3 separate regions of the Homo sapiens genome follow, and all the other regions are linked to region 3. Evidence: fine-mapped expression QTL. A gene starts in region 3. Each other region holds a variant in brackets. All regions are shown on one strand. Distances are from middle to middle.

Region 1 (5,634 bases), 27 kb before region 3:
CTCCAACTTCCCTGTCCTGTCTTTCATTTTGTTTTGTTTTTCGTTTTGAGACAGAGTCTTGCTCTGTCACCCAGGCTGGAGTGCAGTGGTGTGATCTCGGCTCACTGCAACCTCCATCTCCCGGGTTCAAGCGATTCTCCTGCCTCAGCCTCCCAAGTAGCTGGGACTACAGATGCCCGTCACCACGCCTGGCTAATTTTTGTATTTTTGGTAAAGATGGAGTTTTGTCATGTTGGCCAGGCTGGTCTCGAACTCCCAGCCTCAAGTGATCCACCTGCCTCAGCCTCCCAAAGTGCTGGGATTACAGGCGTGAGCCACCATGCCCGGCCTCTCTGTCCTGTCTATGTTCATCTTGGGTCACTGTGGCCTGTCCCTTCCAGTGTATGTCATTCTATCTCTCTCTGTCTCCCACTTTCTTTTTTTTTTTTTTTCTTTTGAGATGGAGTCTCGCCCTGTCGCCCAGGCTGGAGTGCAGTGGCGCAATCTCGGCTCACTGCAAGCTCCGCCTCTCGGGTTCCTGCCATTCTCCTGCCTCAGCCTCCCGAGTAGCTGGGACTACAGGCGCCCGCCACCACGCCCGGCTAATTTTTTGTATTTTTAGTAGAGATGGGGTTTCACCGTGTTAGCCAGGATGGTCTTGATCTCCTGACCTCGTGATCCGCCCGCCTCAGCCTCCCAAAGTGCTGGGATTACAGGCGTGAGCCACCACGCCCAGCCTCTGTCTCCTACTTTCTTCCTGCTCTCTCTTCTTTGGGTTCCATCTCCCCAGTGGGGACCGGGCTGGACATCCTCCCTTTGACTGAGGCCAGCAGGCTTGTTAGGGCAGGAGGTGGGCCGGTTGTGGAGGGAGGCGGAGGAGAGGAGGGCACGGTTGATTCCGGTGCCCTGCTTGGGTCAAGGGCTGACAAAGGGGCACCAGGCCCACACGCACTCGAGCCATGGAACAGCTCAGAGGAAACCCAGGACAAAGAATTCTATTCAGAGAGAGGCCGGGGTGAATGGAGGGAGAGAGAAGCAGAGAGACAGAGAGAGAGACACATACAAAGAGAGACAGAAAGACACACACACCAAGAGACAGAAAGAGACAGAAAAAGGCATACGGAGAGAAATAAGATAGGTAGAGACAGAGAGGCAGAGACAGACTCAGAGGGAGAAACGAGAGAGACAGACAGTGAGGGACAGAAGGACAGTCAGACACTCACGCAGAGGTAGCAATGTTCCCTTGCTCCTGACTTCAGCCCTGCCCGGCCCCCTATTCGGAGCTGACCCACATCCCCGGACTCACCTGGAACATGCAGGCTGCGCTGGGGGCCGTGACCTGGAGCCGTGGCCAGGGGGACAGCATCCTGGAGCCAGAGTAGGTCCACGGGCTCTGGGGGTCCCTGAGCTTGGCAGCTCAGGTTGAAGGGGGTGTTGGCGGCCACAGTCCTGTCTTCGGGCTCCTCCAGGAAGTAAGGCAAGCCTAGCGGGGTGGGCAGTGGTAGAGGCTGGGGTCCCTCTGAGGCCCCAAGATGCCTGACTCACCACTAGGATGCTGTAGGCTTTGGGCAGCAAACCCACCCTGCAGGGTCATTGACTTGCCTTATCTGATCCCCGAGGGCACCTGAGCCATACCCAACACACACGTGACCCCAATATCTGATTCCTCCCATGTCAGACCCCCCACGATAGCTGAGCTCCTCATGTCTCTCTTCCAGAATGTCTGACAGCTCATCCTCATCTCATTCTATGGATGAGAAAAAAGAGACCGCTGGGGTCGTGGGGACAGGGGTACGTTGCGTGCCTCTGACGCCTTATCTGAAGACCAGAATGGCCTCCTGTGACCTGATGGTGTCTGATGCCTAGGACATCCAACTACCCCCAAGAAGTCTTTTCACCCAGAACATATAATCCCCCAGCCTTGGCACCATAACTTATATGGACTCCCAGCTTCTTGACCACCCAAAACTCTGACATTCTTAGGCTGTATGACGCTAGGTTCATCCTGAATCCTCCAGCACCCTTTGACCTTGACCCCTCAGGATTCCTGACTTCCCACAACCTATGAGCGCCACATGTCCTCTGACCCCTCAGGACCCCTGACCCCAGAGCTCACCCTCCAGCCCAACATAGCCAGGCTGGGACACGAAGGTCTGATGTCCCAGAAACACCAAACACTGGTACTGTCCCGTGTCGGAAAGCTGCAGGGAGGTGATTCTGACAGGGCAAGAGGAGAGACAGAGAGGTTCAGGGTCAGAGCTGGACACTGGGAGGGGGTCTGTCAGAACGGAAAGAGGGTGTCCAGTCTGGAAGCTCATGACAACCACGAAGTATGTCCTATTATTAACTCATTTTGCAGAAGAGGAAAACGAAACCTAGAGGTTCCATCACATGCTCAAAGCCGCACGGCTGACAAGTGGTCAAACTGGGGTTCCCACCCAGGTGGGCTTTCTGCCCTCTGTGTGACGGAGGTGGGAGTGGGATTCGGGGATGTGGCCACACACCTGAGCTGGCTGACCACTATCCAGTCATCCTGTTCATCCTCACCCAGGGGCACCTGGGTCTGGGTGCTGTCCGCGAGCTCCAGGATCTGTCCATCCCGAAGCCAATGTACCTCGGGGGGCTCTCCCTGAACCTGGAGCTGACACCGAAGGGTGCCCGTGAGTCCCCGGGCACCTGTGATATTCCCTGGGTTGCCCACGAAGGGACTTTCTTCAGCCTGCGTGCCTGGAGGGGAGATGGGAAGAGTTAGCTTAGGAACCCCCCAGCTCCTTCCGGCCCTCAGTTCCACCCTGTCCTTGCCTGCCCACCGGCGGCCAGGACCCCGCCAGGCCCTTAGGCCGACATAGTTGCAGAGTGACCTCAGAGTGGGGTGGAGGGCGGAGGCTCTGAGAGGAGGACGGGAGCCCTCCCAAGGGACTGGGATCTAGCGTCCATCCCGTCGGGAAGGAGGCTCGGGATCTGGCAGCCTCCCACGCCCTGCACTGCCTGGCAGGGCCAGCCCCTGCCCCCTCCGTCCTCTCTTAGGTCTCTAGAGACTTAACAGGTCGCGCTGGTGCTGGTGGATGGAGGGGAAGAATCAGGGGTTGGGGGAGAGAGATAAGGGTGGTGGTGGGGGGAGATAAGGGTGGTGGCGGAGGGAGAAGCCAGAGAAAGGCAGGGGAGATGAGACAGAGAGGAGCACAGATACAAGGCAAGACAGAAAAAATGAAGAAACAGCCCTCAAGAGAGAAGAAAAGGTGGGGGCGGAGGGGGGATACAGTCACAGAGGGAGGCTGAGAAGAGAGAGAGAGACTCAGAGAGCAGGGAGAGATAAAGGCAGAGACTGTGAAAGAGAGAGAAACAGAGACCCACAGAGATAGCAGAGCTGGAGGCAGAGACAGAGAGACAAAGTGAGAGCCTCCTCCCCAGAGATGGAGTGGACTGGTGGGGTAGGGACAAGTGGCGGGTCAGGGGGGTGGTGTTGGCAGGGAGAAG[C/G]GTTTTCCCCCAGGGCTCCAGAGCCCTCCTCATCCCACTGCCTGACTCGGTGCCCCTTCGGAAAGATTTCTTCCTTCCTGGCGACCCTCAGCTCAGCCCCTCTCCCCATGGCCCCCTTCTCAGGTCCAGCCCCCACCCCTGCCCTCAGCTTCTCCTTGTCTGTCTGTCTCTCCGGGTCCTCTCTTCTGTCCCCCCTGCCCTTCAGTTCCTCTCTCAGTCTTTCTCTCCCTCTGCCGCACTTGGTGTCTCTGAGTCTGTGTCTCCCTCCCTTGAAGTCCCTTTTCTGTGGTCCCAAGGAAACTCCCTAAGCCAGCCCAGGCCCCCCACACCTGCCATCATCCCCCACCTCCTACCCCTGCCCCAGCCCCTCCGAGGGGATCCCTGCCCCAAGGAGCCCCCATCACTCACCCCTGGGGGCCATGCACGCCCAGCCGCACAGCGCCAAGCACCAGGCCAGCGGGACCCTGCCCATCCTGGGGCACCGCCACGCCATGGGTGCCAAACTTTCCTCAGAAGTTGTTGGGCTCCCAGCGGGGGAGGGGGCAGGGCCGGGCTGTCCCCGGCCCTCCCCCCAGCTCCAGGCTCCCCGGATTTGGCACTGCCTGCCTGGCACAGCGGCAGGGGAGGCCCTTGCCACCGGCTCTGCCCAGCAGCCGCCTTCTCAGCACCCCTGCCTCCTTCCCTCACTCCCAGACTTGGGCAACCCTTTCTCCGCCCCTGGCTCCCCCTTTGCCTCCGCCCACCAGGGCCAGAGCCCAGGGGCCACCTGGACAATCAGGGGTTAACTCAAGAGAGGAGAGGATCAGCTCTTTCTTAAAGGGGCCAGGGAGGGAGCTGAGGAGGGGGAAGGGGACCCTGGTGGCTGTGCCCCCTGTCCTGAGCCAGTGAGGCCGTGTCTCTCTATCCGGGCTCTGGGCGCTGTCCCTCTGGGCTCTGTGTCTGGTAAACATTCCTCCAGAACTCCACTCCCCTCTCAGCTCAGGCCGTGACGCCCCTCTCCCCGCCTCCACCCCCAGCCCAGCCCCAGCCAGGCCTCCTTGGCCCTTCATTCCCCCTCACTCTCTCGGCTCCTCGGACAAGGACACACACACACACACACACACGCACGCACGCACGCACGCACACACACTCTTAGACGTCACTGACACACACAGGCTAGGACAAGCAGAGACACGCAGAGGGACCCAGACGGGCAGGGGCATGCTACTGGCCCACAGACACACTCAGACAAGCCAGGCCAGGAGCTCGATTCCTGGAGAAACCTCAGAGACAGGAGGACACGGCTGGGTGGGCATCCATGGGGGACACTTACTTGGGGAGACACAGATCTTCAGACACGCCAAAACCTGCATGGACGCCTAAATGGGACACCAAATACAGGCGACATGAAGGGGACCCAAGTTGGAATCCCAGTGCTACCACTAACTGTGGGCTACAGGCAAGTGACTGGCCTCCTGAGCCTCAGTTTGTCCATCTGTAAAATGGGAATAAGAATAGTTGTTGGCCGGGCACAGTAACTCACTCCTGTAATCCCAGCACTTTGGGAGGCCAAGGTGGGAGGATCGCTTGAGCCCAGGAGTTCGAGACCAGACTGGTCAATGCACTGAGACCCCCATCTCTACAAGAAGTTTAAAAATTAAAACTTAACCAGGTATCATGGCGTGTGCCTGTGGTCCCAGCTACTAGGGAGGCTGGAGTGAGAGGAACGCTTGAGTCCAAGAGATCGAGGCTGCAGTGAGCCCTGATCATTCCACTGCTCTCTCCTTCTGGTGGGACTGTGTGTCCTGGTTATTGCAGATCTGCTGCCTGCGTATCGGCTCTGCTGCACTTCCATTCCTCGGCCCTGTGTGTTTGGCACGTGGAGGGCTCTGCATGCCTGGATGTCTGTGAGGAGGAGGCTGGGCGTCTATCCCTCTGCTCTTGGCCACCTGTGTTTGGGTACTGGTATACCTACGGTGCATCATAAAGTCCTATCTGTTTGGCCTCCTGATGTCTCTTCTACCTGCCCCTTCCCAGCACCCCCGTCTGATCCTGCCTTCTCCTGCCTCTACTGTCACTCCTTTCTCCCATTTAGCAACCAGAGGACTGTTTCTGAAAGTCAAATCCTACCCTGTCCCTTCTCTGCTTGCCCATGGCCTCCTGCTGCCCTCAGGGCAAGCTCCCAGCTCCTTGTCACTG
Region 2 (5,634 bases), 49 kb before region 3:
GCAGTGAGCTGAGATTGTGCCACTGTGCTCCAGCCTGGGCAACAGAGCGAGACTCTGTCTCAAAAAAAAAAAGAAAAAAAAAGAAAAAAGAAACCCGTGTCCTTGGGTTGCTCTGAGGGTTAAACGAGGAGATACATGTAGAATGCTTAGAACAGAGCCTGCCACATAGGTAGTGCTAGGGTTGCCTGTGATTTTTATCACATCATCACCATCTAATCTCAACATTATTTCATCATCATCATCATTTTCTTCTTGTCATTATCTTCATCATTATCATCATCATTACATCTTCTAAGATCCAATGGCTCTGAGGTTTGGTGTTTCTTTTCTTTCTTTTATTTTTTTTTCTTTTTTGAGACAGGGTCTTGCTCTGTCACCCAGGCTGGAGTGCAGTGGTGTGATCACGGCTTACTGCAGCCTTGACCTCCCTGGGCTCAGGTGATCCTCCTACCTCAGCCTCCCGAGTAGCAGGGAGTACAGGGGCACACCACCATACCTGGCTAATTTTTTTTTTTTGTAGAGACAGGGTTTCACCATGCTGCCCAGGCTGTTCTCGAACTCCTGGGCTCAAGTGATCCTCCCACCTCGGCCCCCCGAAGCGCTAGGATTACAGGCATGAGCCACCACACCCAGCCTTGGTGTTTCTAAGATTTACTGTGTCTAAGATTCTATTCCTTGAAAGTTCTTTGTGGTTCCACAAATCTGTTATTTCTAGGGTCTGTGGTTCTGACATTCTAGTATCCCAAGGCCTTTAGAAACTTTTGGCTCACACATGTACAGAAGCCCAGCAGGCCAGATTCTCTACAGCCTTTAGATCCAGGCCAGGGCAGTGGGGCATAGGGTTCACTTACAGGTAGCTTCAGTGGTCCGACGACTGTAGGACTTGCGCACGCGGTACCTGACTACCAGTTCACCTCTTTCCACTGTTGGTTCAAACACTTCTCTGGGGGGGAGGGGGAGTAGGTGAGGGCAGGGAAAAACCATGTGGAACCCCCTACTCAACCAGCAGTTGAGCAAGCACCATCTCAGCCTCAAGCCCTGCCTGCCCTCTGTGCTAACATTTGCTGAGCATGCCTTGGGCAGCTACCTTCTGCCTTCCATTCATTCCACACACCCCCTTGCCCTCATTCTTTTTTTTGAAAACAGGATCTCACTCTGTCACCCAGGCTGGAGTGCAGTGATGCGATCTCAGCTCACTGTAGCCTCCATCTCCCGGGTTCAAGTGATTATCGTGCCTCAGCCTCCCAAGTAGCTGGGACCACAGGCGTGTGCCTACACTTCCCGCTAATTTTTGCATTTTTCAGTAGAGACAGGGTTTCGCCATGTTGGCCAGGCTGGTCTCAAACTCCTGACCTCAAGTGATCCACCTGCTTCAGCCTCCCAAAGTGCTGGGATTACAGGCGTGAGCCACCACGCCTGGCTTCCCTTGCCCTCATTCTGATTCTTAGTCATCACTCCTCCTGCACCAGCCTCCTCACTGGCCTCCCTGCCTCCAGCCTCTCCATCCCAGGCCACACAGCCTCCCCATGTGGTTCCAACTCACCCATAACGGGTCTCCTTCTTTCGCCGGTGGACAAGGAAGAGAGCCAAGATGAGGACACAGGCAGCGGCCACGACTGCTCCTAGCAGTACATACCACCAGGGCCACGAGAAGGCAGGAGTTGAAGGTTCCTTCACTATCAGGGGGTATGAGGAACAGGTCATGGATGAAGCCTTGGATCCAGCTCTCTGGGACCCAAAGGGGTGATGTGGGAGGGAGGCAGAAGGCCTCGGCAAAGATGTGCACATACTTGATGAGGTGTGTGATGGATGCATTCACATATCTGAATGGGCTGGGCTGGACAGGGCATGCAATGGATGTGATACAAGTGCAGGTTAAAGCAGAAGTGTGTGAAAGTTGTAGGATGGGTGAGTTAAGAGTGGGATGGAGGCCAGGTGTGGTGGCTCATGCCTGTTATCCCAGCACTTTGGGAGGCCAAGGCGGGTGGGTTACTTGAGGCAAGGAGTTCAAGACCAGCCCGGCCGACATGATGAAACCCTGTCTCTACTTAAACAAAATATATACAAAAATTAGCTGGGGTGGTGGTGCACACCTGCAATCCCAGCTACTCGGGAGCTGAGGCAGGAGAATTGCTTGAACCTGGGAGGTGGAGGTTTCAGTGAGCCGAGACTGGGCCACTGCACTCCATCCTGGGTGACAGAGCAAGACTCCATCTCAAAAAAAAAAAAAAAAAAAAAAAAAAGAGAGTGCCAGGATAGTTCAGGTGGTAGAGCATCAGACTTTTAACCTGAGGGTTCAGGGTTCAAGTCTCTGTTTGGGCGTTTGCAGTTTTCCTTACTTTAAGCTACCAAATATTATGCCACCAAGATCC[A/G]AAAAAACAGAAGAGTGGAATGGATATTTGAGGAGTGTGCAGTGAGTGTGGAATGGGAGGGAGAGATGTGTGGAACGCGTTATGAGTGTGCCAAGAGGGCTAGATGAACATGAGATGGGTGTGGAGAAATCTCAAGCAGCATAGGTTAGTGTGAGAAATGTGATGATTGTGCAAGAAGGGTGGACTAGAGTGTAGATAAGCAGGTGAGTGGGGAAGAAGATCCTTGCAGTGTAGGATGGTGCATGAAGCGTGTGCAAGGAGGGCGGACTAAGGAACATCTTTTGAAGAGAATGCAATGACTACAAAAGGGTTTTCTTTGTCTCTTTTTTTGTTTGTTTGTTTTTTGAGACAGGGTCTCACTCTTTCACCCAGGCTGGAGTGCAGTGGCCCGGTCTCAGCTCATTGCAACCTCTGCCTCCCAGTTTCAAGCAAATCTCCTGCCTCAGCTTCTAAGTAGCTGGGATTACAGGTGTGCACCACCATGCCCAGCTAATTTTTGTATTCTTTTTTTGGTAGAGACAGGGTTTCACCATGTCTCCTGAGTAGCTGGGACTGCAGGTCTGTGCCACCTGGCTAATTTTTTTTTCTTTTCTTTTTCTTTTCTTTCTTTTTTTCTTTCTTTCTTTCTTTTTTTTTTTTTTTTGAGACAGAGTCTTGCTGTGTTGCCCAGGCTGGAGTATAGTGGCATGATCTTGGCTCACTGTAACCTCCGCCTCCCAGGTTCAAGCAATTCTTGTGCCTCAGCCTCCCGAGCAGCTGGGATTACAGGCTCGCACCACCAGGCCCAGCTAATTTTTGTATTTTTAGTAGAGATGGGTTTTCGCCAATGTTGGCCAGGCTGGTCTTGAACTCCTGACCTCAGGTGATCCACCTGTCTCAGGCCTCCCAAAGTACTGGGATTACAGGCGTGAGCCATTGCACCCGGCCACAATGGTTTCCATAAAGCCAGGAATGAGGGTGAAATAAATATCCAAAGGGGCATGGTAAGCATATACAGGGTTGGATGGCTGCTGGAAAAGTTGGGGGTGTGTGAAGTGGGAAGAGTATTCGTGAAGTCTTAGATACAAGGAGTGAGCAAGGAATTTTAAGGATGTAATTGCAGTGTGAGAGAAGTGTGCAGTGAGCATGCAAAAGATGTTAGAAGGGCAGATGAGAAGTATGGGGTGCACAGAAAGGGGGTGTAAAAAGGGCAGGGGTGGAATGGAGTGTGTAAGAAATAAAGATCATTATGTGCTGAGTATGCAAGGGGTTCAGGGTGAGTGTGCAGAGTGAGATGGGTTGGGATTAGTGAAGGGTGAGGGAATGATGTCTATGGAGTGTGCAGTAAGCATGCAAGGAGAATCGGGTGTGGGAAAGTTGTGGACAATGTTTTTCAGTGTTTGCAATGTGGAAGGTATGGTAAGTGCATACAAGGTGTGCAGAGTTTGTGAATGAGAAGTGTGTTGTGCAATGGGCCTTTGGGGTCATGTGGGAGGAACGGATTATAATGGGATATATGTGAAAGGAGGGTGGAATAAGCGTGGAAAGCGTATGTGAAGAAATGTAGGAAGGGATGTGAGGAGTATTGAAGGCTAGTGGGTTGAGTTACAAGAGTGAACCATAATAGTGCCCAGAGGGGACAATGGGTGTAGGAGGAATGTTTGAGAATTGTTAGAGAAATATTTGAGAGGGATGGATGTGAGGAGGATACCTCATTCATCCATCCATCCACCTTTCTACCCATCCATTCATCCACTCACAAATCCATCCATCTGTCCATCCATCCATTTATCCAACCATCCATTCATCCATCCATCCATCCATCCATCCACCCATCTACCCATCCATATATCCACTCACCACCCAGTCATCTTTTGTTCATCCACCTATCCACCCATCTATTAATCCATTGACCCACCCACCCATCCACCCTCCATATATCCAACCATCCATCCATCCACCCTCCATATATCCACCCACCCATCCATCCACCCATCCATCTACCCATCCATTTATCCACTCACCATCCAGTCATTTATCTGTTCACCCACCTATCCACCCTCTATTCATCCATTGGCCCACACACCCATCCATTCTCCATATATCCACCCATCCATCCATCCACCCATCCATCTACCCATCCATTTATCCACTCGACATCCAGTCATTTATCTGTTCACCCGCCTATCCATCCTCTATTCATCCATTGACCCACCCACCCATCCACCCTCCATATATCTATCCATCCATCCATCCATCTATTTGTTCATCCATCCACCCACTCATCTGTCATTGCCTGAATACCTACAATGTGCTATGCTAGGCCATTATAGGCACCTCCATCAAGGACCACACAAACTCAAGAAGTAGGTTAGAGTGATGAGTTAGAGAAACATGAAAGGGATGTGCAATGAGTATGCATGGTGACAGTGCCCCCACTAGGTGTTGAGGGTAGGGAAGGAGGAGATGGGGTGTGGAAGCCCTTACCCAGCTGGTGGACTGGCTGTGCTTGCCCTGTGAGAAGAAAGGACAGAGAGGAGATGTGCTCAGAGAGGACAAGACTGGCGTGGCACGGGTAAGGGAGTAAGGGTGTGGCACGGGTAAGGGAGTGAGGGTGTGGCACGAGTAAGGGAGTGAAGGTTTGGCACGGGTAAGGGAGTGAGGGTGTGGCACGGGTAAGGGAGTGAGGGTGTGGCACGGGTAAAGGAGTGAGGCCGTGGCACAGGTAAGGGAGTGAGGGGTTGGCATGGGTAAGGGAGTGAGGGCAGCTCTCAGTAAGGCTCAGGGTAGGAACAGGGCCTAAGTTGCGGTAACACTGAAAGGTACAAGGAGTAAGTCAGGGCTGTCAGGGAGAGACAGGGTTGAAGCAGGTTGGGCATGGCTTTGGACTTACCTGGGCGCCAGGCCTCCAGGGGTACTGGGAGGCTCCAGGGTCCATCCCCAGCAGCAGTGTAGGCTGCCACACACACTGTCAGATTGGACACAGACCCGTCCCCCTGCAGCTCCAGGGTCACCTCTTGCCTTAGCCCTATGTCCATTAGCACCTAGGAGGTCCAGAAGTGGCATCAGGGTAGAACCTTACCCCCCAGCTGTTAAGCCTTCACTCTCGGGCTCAATGCCCCATCTCTTTCTCAAAACGCTCTCCCCATCCTCCAACTCCTCATCCTTCCTCGTCCTCCCCTTCATCTCTCATCCTCATCCTTTAACCTGTATCCCTCCATCCCCTTCTAGCTTCCCTTTCCATCCTCCCTCCCTATGTCAGGGTATTGCTAGCCCTGATAGG
Region 3 (5,594 bases):
CACAAATGCCTAGGCTCAAGTCATCCTCCCCATTCAGCCTTCCAAAGTGCTGGGATTACAGGCATGAGCCAGCGTGCCCAGTCTGAAAATTCATCAGTTGAATGGATGAATGCTTCTCTCAAAGTCATGCTTTTGTAGGTGCTGGTCTTTCTGCCTGGAACACCCTCCCCACTCATCTTATGAGTCTCAGCTCCGACAGCCTCTCTTCCAGGAAGACTTCCTGAAGCTCCCTCACCAAACATGCCGGGTCAGGTACCTCCTCTAAATTCCTACAGTCCCAGGGCTTCCCTCAGCCTGGCCCTGACCCCTCTTGCCCTGACCCCTCCCCATCCCACCCTGACCTTTCTCCCCGTGCTTCCCCATCTTGGCCCTGACCACTCTGGGCTGGGACTGTGTGGTGAGTCTGTTTCCCCACTGGCCTAGGTGCGCTGGGGAAGCAGCACCGGTGCTGTCTTAGTTACTACTGAGTTCCTGGCAGCACCCAGCATGGGCCTCCTGCTTTCTGTTGTAATACAGAGAACTGTTTCTATTATTCGAGGGCTTGCCCACCAATCCCCAGCACCTTGAAAGCGCTCCGGCATCTTTCTGAACCCTCAGGGCTTTACCTGGATCATTGATGGTTATCACTGATACTACAACCTGGTGATTAGTGAGTGCTCACTTTGCACAAGGCTCAGTCCTCACTCAATCACTCAATCCTACATGATGGGCACTGCTTTTTGTTTGTTTGTTTGAGATGGAGGCTCACTCTGTTGCCCAGACTGGAGTGCAGTGGCACAGTCTTGGTTCACTGCAACATCTGCCTCCCGGGTTCAAGCGATTCTCCTGCCTCAACCTCCCAAGTATCTGGGATTACAGGTACGCACCACCATGCCCAGCTAATTTTTATATTTTTAGTAGAGACAGGGTTTCACCATGTTGGCCAGGCTGGTCTCGAACTCCTGACCTCAAGTGATCCACCCACCTCCGCCTCCCAAAGTGTTGGGATTTCAGGCACTAGCCACTGCACCCGGCTGATGGGCACTGTTATCACTCCATTTGACAGATGAGGCAACAGAGGGACTAAGCCATGTGCAAAGGTCACACACCAGTAAGTGGTGGCAGGCTGTGAGCGGAGGGCCTAGCAGCCCTTGACTTACCATGGCCATCAAAAGTCCCTTCCAGCATCGCTACGGTTCCCCGGCCGCTGAACTCCTCAGCCTGACCTCCCAGGGCCTCCCGCACAGCCTCCTGCCCAACCAGGACCACCACAGGCCGCCAGGGTCCCAGGTAGATGGTGAACACCGGTCCGTACTTCTTACTCAGCTGGGGGTAGGGAGGAAGAAAGAGGAGGGTGCTGTGACCTCTTCGATCCAAGGTGTCTCCATCATGGCCCCTGTCACTTGAGGAGCCACCGGGTCTAGCTTCTACGCCCTCTACCAGGAACCTGCCCCCATCCCAGCAGAAATAGCTGAGGCTCAGTTCTCTTTTTGCACTAGGCTCCCGGGCCTCCTCCCCCAGTACATCCTTCAGTGGCATCCCCCAACTTCCTGTCGTTCCCTTGCTTCCTGCTGAACCCTAACCTCTGACGCTGGGCAATCCAGAAGCAGTTTGGGTCTCCCTTAATTCCTTAGGGCCCTCCCTGCCCCCCAAATATCCAGCCACCCCTTTCAGTCACCACAAAACCCTGAAATTCTGGAGCAGACACTGCTGAGTATCCGCCCCATCTCTCCCCCAAGACCCCACCCTTTTTTCTACGTCCTTGAAGTCACCCAGAATCCTTTTGAATGGGAAACTTCAGGCCTCTGCCCACTCCCACCTGCTATCCCCTAAGGCTGGGGCTGCCTCTGCCTTCTTTCTTGCTCTCCTTCCTCCCCAGTCCCAGGAACTCCCAACTGAGCTCCACCCATCCTCCCATCCTGCATTCTCTGCTGGCAGATTCCTTCAGCGGGACCCCCTCTCTGAGCCTGCAACCCTCCAGCCTCTTCTCTGCCTCCAACTCCCCGCAGGGACGCCTCCCCCTTTTCTTCTTTGTGCCCTCTTCAGCATGCCCCACCTGTATGGCTCCAGCTACCTCTCCCTCTGGGACAAGCCCAGCTGCATCAGCTTCTCCTCGGCTGGAGGACTCCTGTCTCTTTCAGCCTCGGTCCCTGCCCATCACCTTCCCAGGATTCTGTAGGCAGAGGTCTCTGCCCCTCCTAGCCCTGGTCCCCCACCCCACGATCCTCTCTCCCGGGCACCTCTCCCCTTCTCAGCCCTGGACAACCTGCTCCTGCCCCCAACCCCAGGACAGCAGCAGCCCCTTTGCCTTGGGACCCCTGCCCCTGCCTCCTCCCTAGGATACCCGAAAAGCCCCTCACCCTGGCACTCGGGTTTCTCTCCCAGGAATCCTCCCACCCCTAGCCAGGACGTCCCCAGAGCCCCTTACCCGCATGAGCCCTGAATACAGCGCCCCGGGCCGTAGCTGCAGGAGGTTTCCCAGCAGTGGTAGCGGCGTGGGCCCGGGGGGCAGGTGGCCTCGGGCCCTGGTCCCGGACAGCGCCAGCGTCAGCAGCAGGAGCAGCGCCAGCGCCAGCAGCAGCGCCCAGGTGCCGGTCGCCTCCATCTCGGCAGGTCGGCTCCTTCTCCTCTCCCAGGCGCTCCGCGCGGCTGGGCTAGTTAGGGGCGGGAGCCGGGCGTCTCCCTCCCCAACGAAGTCAGGCGCGGGGCGGGGCAGCTAGCCCAGCCCCCTGCCTCCTGGGCAGGCTTATCTCCCCGCCGCCGGGTTTCTCCCGGACCACCGCCGCCGCCTGATGTCGGGAACTCATGCTCCAACGGATGTCTCCGAGGTCACCCAGGTTTACGCGGGGCTTGGGCGGCGGAGACAGCGCCTTGGGCCCCCGGATAGGGAGTAAGCAAACAGAAGAACCTGGAAGTCAGAGACTTTGGCCGCCTGGAGGTTGCCACACCCCGCATCTGGCGGTGACCCCGCGCCACTCTCCCCAGCTCCTACCTCGCTCATTGTTCGGATGTGGGTTCCTGTGTGCGTGCGTGTATGGGGTGTCTTTGAGTCAATTTTCTCCAGCATCTTACATCTTCACGAACTGAGAGGAAGGACTTGACCTTTAAGGATAAACAATCTGAAGTCCAGGGAGATAAATCGGTTGGCCCCAGGTCAACTTGGCTGAGTGGCAGAGTTAATATTTTGACTTGGGCCAGTTAGAATGATTGAGTCATTCATTCATTCGTTTAGAGGCAGTTTGCAGAGCGGTTAGGACCGTGATGGCTGAAGCCAGACTGCTTGAATTCACAGCCTAATTCCTCTGTGCCTCTGTTAGCCTTGTAAAATGGGGCTAGTTTTCAGGATTAAATAGTACATCTGTGCACACCATTTAAAGCAGACGCAGGTGCACATGTAACAAGCACTAAATAGATGTTAGCTAATATTTCTGCAACTAACTGTTATTGAGGTCTTACTATAAACAAGACCTTGTTCTAGACCCGAGGGTGCAGCTATGAGCGATGGAGAGAAGGGCTCTGGCCTTCCTGAGCTCATATCCACATGCAGATGAAGATGAGATGAAAACAATTTCAGGAAGTGAGAAGGCCTGCCAGGGGAATGGGCTTCTTGAGAAGGAAGAATGTTAGAACCATTTGTGCATGAATTATTGTAGGTTTGGTTCACTGCTGTATCCCCAACATATAGTGCAGTGCCTGACACACAGTAGGCACTCAATAAATATTTGTTATATTTTCAAAGATTGAATGTAGGAGATAAGATTCATGAAGTCTGCAGGGGCCATCTTGCAAGGTCTTGGAAAAGACTGCATTTTATTTCTATTGCAAACGGAAGCTGTCTGGAGGGGTTTTCAGCAGGGCAGTTACTTTGTTTGCTTTGCATTTTGATTTCGTATTTTATTATAAAAATATTAAAATTTCAAACATACAGTGAACACCTGTATACCCATCAGATTCCACCATTTTATTATCCTTTCTTTGTTACCTATCTATTCTTTTTTTGTTTGAGATAGAGTCTCACTCTGTTGCCCAGAGTGGAGTGCAATAGCATACAGTCTTGGCTCATTGCAACCTCTGCCTCCCGGGTTCAAGCAATTCTCCTGCTTCAGCCTCTCAAGTAGCTGCGATTACAGGCGTGCACCACCATGCCTGGCTATTTTTTGTATTTTTAGTAGAGACGGGGTTTTTGCCATGTTGACCAGGCTGGTCTCAAACTCCTGACCTCAGGTGATCTTCTCACCTCAGCCTCCCAAAGTGCTGGGATTACAGGCATGAGCCACTGTGCCTGGCCCTTTTTTCATTACATATCTGTTCATTTTGCCTATCCATTGATTTTTTTTTAAGCATTTCAAAGTCAGTTGCAGATACCAGTACACTTCACTCCCAAATACATCAGCATGCATATCAGTAGCTAGAGCTCAGTATTTGTTTACAGATACTTTTTGTTCCTCAAGGTATCTTATATACAATGAAATACATAACTCTTAAGTGTATAATTAGATGAGCTTTGAGTTGCATATGCTGGAGTTTTAAAATATTAGATTCTTTGGGAGGCTGAGGCGGGCGGATCACGAGGTCAGGAGATCGAGACCATCCTGGCTAAAATGGTGAAACCCCGTCTCTACTAAAAATACAAAAAATTAGCCGGGCGTAGTGGCGGGCGCCTGTAGTCCCAGCTACTTGGGAGGCTGAGGCAGGAGAATGGCGTGAACCCGGGAGGCGGAGCTTGCAGTGAGCCGAGATCCCGCCACTGCACTCCAGCCTGGGCGACAGAGCGAGACTCCGTCTCAAAAAAAAAAAAAAAAAAAAAAAAATTAGATTCTTAGAATTTTCACAATCTTTTTTTGAGACAGGGTCTCGCTCTGTTGCCCAGGCTGGAGTGCAGTGGCACGATCTTGGCTCACTGCAATCTCTGCCTCCTGGGTTCATGTGATTCTCCTGCCTCAGCCTCCTGAGTAGCTGGGATTACAAGCGCCCACCACCACTCCCAGCTAACTTTTGTATTTTTAGTAGAGTTGGGGTTTCACCATGTTGGCCAGGCTGGTCTCGACCTCCTGACCTCAGGCAATTTACCCACCTCGGCCTCCCACAGTGCTGGGATTACAGGCATGAGCCACTGCCCCCGGCCTGCAATCTTGCAATTTGTATTCTAGTCCAGAGCCCTTTCTCTCAAGAGCATAGCCAGAGTGCTCCCTGGAGTCTGGGGAATCCTTGACTGTGGTCTTCTTTAGCATTGATTCTAGCCTCTAACATTCCAGGGGTGCCCTGAAGCCAAAGGAGGAGGGGTGGGGAGGCTCATACGCTCTTGCTATGAAGTAAATGCCAGTTCTCAGTTCCTCCTTTGCCTTGTTCTGGAAGGTTTCTAGGACGTTCCAAATCCAACCTTGAGCCTATCTGCTCCCTCTGTTCTACCCCTGGGAGAGCTAACAGACATCTCAAACTTCATGGATATAAAAGAATTCCCGATTCCCCCACCTCCTGCAAAGTGGGCTGTACCAGCTTCCCACCCCATCTGGGAATACTTTCTCTCACCTCCTTCCTTACCTCTGTAAAAGGTATCACCATCTTTTCACTTGCTGATGACAACAAAATATAGGAGAGGCCGGGCGCGGTGTCTC

Evidence for each region. PIP is the estimated chance that this variant, and not a neighbour inherited with it, causes the effect. A credible set is the group of variants that fine-mapping cannot tell apart.
Region 1: its variant is the best candidate, but not a certain one, in a credible set for the expression of CYP2S1 in whole blood (INTERVAL, PIP 0.89).
Region 2: its variant is the best candidate, but not a certain one, in a credible set for the expression of CYP2S1 in blood mononuclear cells (TOPMed, PIP 0.80).

The regions. Positions count from the first base shown.
Region 1 is chr19:41,217,708-41,223,341 of GRCh38, reverse strand. It overlaps AXL (AXL receptor tyrosine kinase), which reads right to left and starts at 4,119. Exons shown (of 20, transcript NM_021913.5): 1 at 3,865-4,119; 2 at 2,484-2,706; 3 at 2,096-2,196; 4 at 1,286-1,462. The coding sequence starts at 3,949. RefSeq lists enhancers at 966-1,903, 4,154-4,978 and a silencer at 4,406-4,545. The variant C/G (reference allele first, on the strand shown) is at 3,457.
Region 2 is chr19:41,238,925-41,244,558 of GRCh38, reverse strand. AXL (AXL receptor tyrosine kinase) reads right to left here. Exons shown (of 20, transcript NM_021913.5): 9 at 5,245-5,395; 10 at 4,839-4,865; 11 at 1,544-1,676; 12 at 852-943. It also overlaps the pseudogene TRK-TTT10-1. Among named protein-coding and RNA genes, the nearest start is that of AXL, 23 kb to the right of the region's middle. The variant A/G (reference allele first, on the strand shown) is at 2,373.
Region 3 is chr19:41,190,255-41,195,848 of GRCh38, reverse strand. CYP2S1 (cytochrome P450 family 2 subfamily S member 1) reads right to left here and starts at 2,630. Exons shown (of 9, transcript NM_030622.8): 1 at 2,408-2,630; 2 at 1,140-1,305. The coding sequence starts at 2,584. It overlaps LOC124904790, which reads left to right and starts at 2,797. Exons shown (of 3, transcript XM_047439802.1): 1 at 2,797-2,869. The coding sequence starts at 2,797. It also overlaps the pseudogene RN7SL718P. RefSeq lists enhancers at 781-1,293, 2,604-3,104 and a silencer at 2,602-2,691.